Regions from separate parts of the Homo sapiens genome. Here region 1 is linked to region 2. Evidence: fine-mapped expression QTL. A gene starts in region 2. The other region holds a variant in brackets. All regions are shown on one strand. Distances are between the middles of the regions. Region 1 has its middle 38 kb from the start of PARTICL. Region 2 holds the start of MAT2A (methionine adenosyltransferase 2A).

Region 1 (2,904 bases), 38 kb after region 2:
TCATGAACGTTGGCAGCATGTATGTGAGTGCAAAAACAGATAATTATCAGCATGAGCCAAAAAAAAAAAAAAAAAAATCAGGCTAAAATCAAAGAAGGGACACCAATGGGATCAAGAAGAGAAGGTCCAGAAAAGAATGCAGATGTTACTCCAAATGCATCTCTGTGTGTTCATATTGGCTGATGTAGGGGTGTGCACTGCCTGGACTACTGAAGTCCCAGCCCTCCAGAGTCCTCCTAGATCTCTGGTAATGCAAGAAGAATGTCCCTCCCTACTCTGGGGAGGCTGCTTCCTCCCCAGGTCAAAGCCATTGTTATTATCGGCTACAGATATTAGTGAGCACACTGGGCTACAAGGGGGACTAACATTTATGAAGTACCCAGTACTATGTGCACAACACGGTGCAAACCTTTCTTTTTGGGCAGCCAGGATGGAGTGCAGTGGTGCAATCAGGGCTCACAGCAGCCTCGAACTCCTAGGCCCAAGTGATCCTCCCATCTCAGCCTCCTGAGTAACTAGGACTACAGGCATGCATCACCATGCATGGCTGATTTTTTTTTTTTTGAAACGGAGTTTCACTCTTGTTGCCCAGGCTGGAGTGCAATGGTGCGATCTCAGCTCACTGCAACCTCCACCTCCCGGGTTCAAGCGATTCTCCTGCCTCAGCCTCCCAAGTAGCTGAGATTACAGCCATGAACCACCATGCCCAGCTAATTTTGTAGTTTTAGTAGAGATGAGGTTTCTCCATATTGGTCAAGCTGGTCTCGAACTTCCGACCTCAGGTGATTGGCCTGCCTCGGCCTCCCAGGTAGCTGGGAGGCATGAGCCACCATGCCCGGCCAAGGCTAATTTTAAATTTTTTTAAATTTGAAACCCTCCCCCTTGCCCCAGTTTTAAATTTGTTTGTAGGGACTGGGTCTCACTGTGTTGCCCAGGCTAGTCTTAAACTCCTGGCCTCAAGTGATCCTCCTGTCTTGACCTCACAAAGTGTTGGGACTACAGGCATGAGCCACCACGCCTGGCCGGCAAACATCTTATAGTACTCTGCAAGATAGGTATTGCTATCTTCATTTTATACAATAATAATAAATAACACTTACTAAGTTAAATAATACAAAATATGTAACACGTACTAATGCATTTAATCCTCGCAGTGGCCTTGTGAGGAAAGTACTACTATTATTCATCTCCACTTTTTGGAGGAGGAAGCTAAGGCAACTGAGGTTAACTAACT[T/A]CCTCAAGGTCACACAACTAATAAACGGCTGTGGTCAACTGCCTTTTCCTCTCGGAGTAATTCTCTGCCTTTCTGAGCCTTTGTGCTATATCACAGAGAACTGCGTTTCCCAGGCTCCCTTGCTCTCTGGCTTCCAGGTTGGTTCAGCCAATGGAAAGCTGGGAGAGAGGGAGGAGGTGGAGAGAAGCCAAGGTATCTCTCTCTCTTTCTCTTCTTCCTGTAGTGTCTCTGGCAACAGTTATGTCCTTAGGTGGCTCTCACATCTACTCTACAGGCCCTCCCTCCATGATCTCAGCTCCCATCAGGCAGCCTCTATGGGGTTTCAGATCCCACCAGATGGCCCCCACTCTGGGCTCTAGCTGCACTACCTCCTCCTACGTAACTCCCTGTATAGTAGCGTCTTGTGCTTCCATTAGACTTCTCAGTCCTTCCATTTCCAGTGCTGCCAATTCCCTGTATTAAATTCCTTCTGCCAGAGAGACCTAGAAGACTCTGTTTCCCTGGGTGGACCCTTACTTGTACCCAGACAATATGGCTGCAGAGCCCACAATCTTAACCTTTTCAGGTGAGAAAATAGACACAGACTTATATAACTTGCTCTAGGTTGCAAAACTAAAGTATAAAACAACCAAGAAAAATTTGGAAAATCAGAAAAACAAGAGGATGTCCTTTTAGATATCAAAAGATACCTTGAAGCTATAAGAATAAAAACAATGTGGTGCTGACCCTGAATCAGTGGAATAAATCAATGGAACAGAATCCAATTCAGAAACAACTATGGGAATAGAAGAATATTTTCTTCTTAAAGGGGGCATTTCAAAGAAGTGGAGAAATGCTATTAGAGGGATTAAGCCATTAATTTGGGGGAGAGTCCCAGAATAAATTTCAAATGGATTGAAGAGTTAAGCAACATGAAAGTACCAGAAATAAATAAAGAAGAACTAAGTCTTGGGATTAGGAAACTTCTTTCCAAGCAAGACTGAAAAACCAAAAGCCATAAAGGATAAAGCTGACAAATGTATAATTTACATGACAATTTAAAATGTTTGGTAGAGGAAAGAACCCAAAGCTCTAAAGAAATCTGTGCCTAGCTGGCTTTGTTTGAGATCTCCACTGTCCTCTGAAAATGGGGAAGGAAACTGAGACCGATTTCTTGGGTGCTCTTGCTGTTACTGCAATTCTAGCCCTTCCCCCAGCTCGAGGCACAAGGAGACGCTTCACAAAGCGAGAACCTGCCTGCTCCTTCATGCACAGTTTTCATTCGGTGCTAAAGCTGCAAAAATGAGATAAGCTGAAGCCAAAAGGTATTTGGAAAGTGGAGATGAATAGGTCAGGAACTCTGTACTCTTTTTAAAGAACGTTATCTATTTGGCCTACTTATTCTTTGGTCATGAGTGCTTGAGGGAAGGCAAGGACGACAGGACAAAGAAGACTGGGAATAACTGAAAACCTGGGCCTCAAAAGCAGTAGGGGAGAGGTGATATCTCCAGAGCAGCAGGACAGGCGAATGGAGCATTTGGTTCTCAATTCGTTTATATTAGTAAGTATGAGACCTTTCCTCTTACACGTTTTGTTTTTGTTTTATTTTTTCAGATAGAGTCTTGCTTTGTTGCCCAGGCTGGAGTGCAATGGCACGATCTCGGCTCACTGCAACCTCCTCCTCTTGGGTT
Region 2 (2,904 bases):
ACACCAATTATAATGAGCAACAAGATAATTCGATTAAACAATTAAATGAAAAGCATTTTCTGACTAAAATGGCAATTATCTGATTTTGCTGTTAGGAGTTGCGCAGGAAACAAAAGCTCAACAGTGTAGAAGATGCTCAAACGTATTCCGAATCCATGTCTCCCTGCTTTGTCATCTATTGTTAGGAGGGAGAACAAATATCTCCCTAATTCAAGTTCGTTTTTCTGAATTTTCTATAACCGCCTAAAACAGAATCCAAACATAATGTGGAAGCCAGACTGCAGGCTCTGAACTTCGGTCTACTACTAACTGGTGTAACAGCTAACCTTCAGCACTCATCAAGATCCTGGGTTTGTCCTCTCATACCACTAAGTTACTTGTGGGATTTCATCATGGGCACAGTAAACTGACCAGACCCTAAAGCCACCAGATAGATAACTACTGCGGTCATCCTAAGGGCAGAAACAGCCAAAAGAGCCAAATAATCATCTTTACTAGCCGATATGCTCAGGCTGAGATTTTCAGTTCCTGGAAATATAGCTTTACTCCTCCTTCACGTGCCAATTGATCCCCATAATGGCGGTTGAGCGGACAAAGCCTCAAGTAAAACCCTGCACCGAAGACTTTAAATGCGAACCCAAAGCAATGGCAGCTCCTAATTCATGCTTCCCATCCTTTTCACAAGGGGTCCAAATAAGGACTGCCTTCTTGGACATGAGCTATATTTAGTCAGAGGCCGTCACCTTGGAGGCAAGGCCATATCCGCCGAAGGGCATGTGCGTATTCTCCAGTGTGTAGTCAAGACCTAACCACTGAGGCAGTGGAGCCAGACGACGTCCCAAGGCATAGGCCCCCCACCCCTCAAACTGAGGGCCAGGACAGCCGGGGAGGCTCACGGCTCCCCCTCGCCCAGATACCACATGCGGCAAACACGTGGTCGCCGCTGCAATGCGGGGCGCGCGCTCCCGAGGGCCGGACGCGAGCACGCGGGGCGGGTCGCCCACTCCAGGTTTGTCAGACGGCAGGGCCGGGAGGGGTTAACAGTGCCCTCCCTTCCCGGCCAGAACTCACTAGCGACCACAGCCCCCGCCCTTCACGTTTTCTGGAACCTTCCGCATGCCTAGGCGCGCGACCGAATGAAAAGGGAGGGGGGAAGGGAAGGGTGGAGAGGGGAGGGGGAAGAGGAGCGGCGGCCACGCGCCAGGCCCTGGCGGCGCCACGAGGAAAGCGCGCGGTCGCCGCTCTTCCATCACCCGGCGGACGAGGACGACCCGCGCGGGCCCCACCACCGGCCGGCCGCAGCCAGCCGGACCTTGGCGCTGCCTTCTGCCCCGCCCCACGCTTCGCTTCAGGCCGTCCCCTCACCTGGGTGGCCTTCCCCGACCGACTCTGAGGTGAAAAGGAATGTGCCCTCCTCGATGAACGCCTCGTGGAAGCCGTTGAGCTGTCCGTTCATGTTGGTGTCGGTGTGCGGAAGTGGCCTTACGAAGGAGCAGCGGCGAGGCGGCAGCGGCTGCGAAATGCGCAAGCTGCGGACAGCGTTCTACTCGTAGCAGGCGGGCGGCGCGGAGCGAACGAAGCAGCGGGCGGTGCGGCCCGGTATTTATAGAGCAGCGCCCGCGCGCGCCCGGCTCGGGCCCCGCCCCTCGGCGCCGCGCGCCAATGCACCACTTGCGCGGGGGTCGGGGGAGGAAGGGCAGCTCGCCCCGCGGAGTCCGGGCTGAACCACACTGCGCGGCCGCGGGAGGTGCCGTGGCAATCCGGCCCTCCAGAGACCGTTCAGCTATCTTGAGCCGCTAGAGCTAGGAGAAAAATGCAGACGCGAGGAGACGTGGGGGATTGCTCTTCCTTGTTTGATGTGGGAGAAAAAGCGACTGGGGCTTGCTGGACCCGCTCCCCTGTGCGGTGACATGGCACCTCCCTTCCGACCGTTGGCCGGGATAGCTTTCCCGGAGGTCGCGTCCCCCAGCGGAGGCGGCGGGAATCGCGGAGGTTTTGTGCTGCGGCTGGGGTCTTTCTGGCCGTCCCGCCTCTAGATGCCGGGTGGCAGGGAGCCGGTGGCGGTCGGCCATGTGAAGGTGGCCATCTTGGCCGGCCAGCGAGGGCTCCTCACGGCCTTCCTTCGGCGTCCCTGCCCGGCTCGTTGCCGGCCCCGGGATATCTGAGGGGCGCAGGCCCACCTTCTAGTCGTTTCCTGGTGAATGGCTCTGCTGAAGATGGCCGGAAAGCAGATTAATGAAGGTGCTGCCATCGATTTAAACAATCGCCCTCCTGCCCGCTCCCCTGCGCTAAAGTTTCTGAGGGATCCTCACCCTTCGTGGTTCGTGGACTTAAAAGTGGAGGCAGCGCTCCAGCCTTTCCCTCCAGAGAGAAAGGAGGCCGCTCCCAAGTCCGTCCTTGCCCCGTGGCCTTCCTGTTCCTTTGAAGGGGGGGGGAATCGATGTTTCAATCCTCTGTTCAGGAGAATATGGAACGAACATTTCTTTTTTGGTGGGTGGGGGCTATTCGTTCCCTTGAATGTGCTTAAGCAGATCTCTTGACGGCGTGGAATGGGCTGTTTCATGAAGCTTTCACTTTAAAATGTCCACCTGCGTTTGTCCCAGTTTTGCCCAATAAAGGAATTACAGGGAAAAAGAGCGAAACAAAACTTGAGCCAGCAAGGAGTATGGAGTCCCGTTTGGAGGGAGCCCGCCTTGGGGGCGGGGGTCTCTGCAGCCTGTTCTGGGGCTGGGCCTCGGTGCAGGTCTGGTCGGGCTGGTGGCCTGGTGGCCCTGAGCGGAGCGCGTGACAAGAACGCCGGGTTTAATGAGGTTCTCAGGGAACGGCCTGCTCCTAGCATGGGATGTACTTTACGCTGGGGAGGTGAAGGAGACCCCTAGTAACAGTCTCCAGCTGCCTACTGCT

What was found. PIP is the estimated chance that this variant, and not a neighbour inherited with it, causes the effect. A credible set is the group of variants that fine-mapping cannot tell apart.
Region 1: its variant is the best candidate, but not a certain one, in a credible set for the expression of MAT2A in whole blood (TOPMed, PIP 0.68).

The regions. Positions count from the first base shown.
Region 1 is chr2:85,499,903-85,502,806 of GRCh38, reverse strand. No RefSeq gene overlaps it. Among named protein-coding and RNA genes, the nearest start is that of PARTICL, 38 kb to the left of the region's middle. The variant T/A (reference allele first, on the strand shown) is at 1,235.
Region 2 is chr2:85,537,840-85,540,743 of GRCh38, reverse strand. It overlaps MAT2A (methionine adenosyltransferase 2A), which reads right to left and starts at 1,576. Exons shown (of 9, transcript NM_005911.6): 1 at 1,366-1,576. The coding sequence starts at 1,456. It overlaps PARTICL (promoter of MAT2A antisense radiation-induced circulating long non-coding RNA), which reads left to right and starts at 1,858. Exons shown (of 1, transcript NR_038942.1): 1 at 1,858-2,904. RefSeq lists silencers at 989-1,318, 1,499-1,768 and enhancers at 1,799-1,888, 1,959-2,168, 2,569-2,658.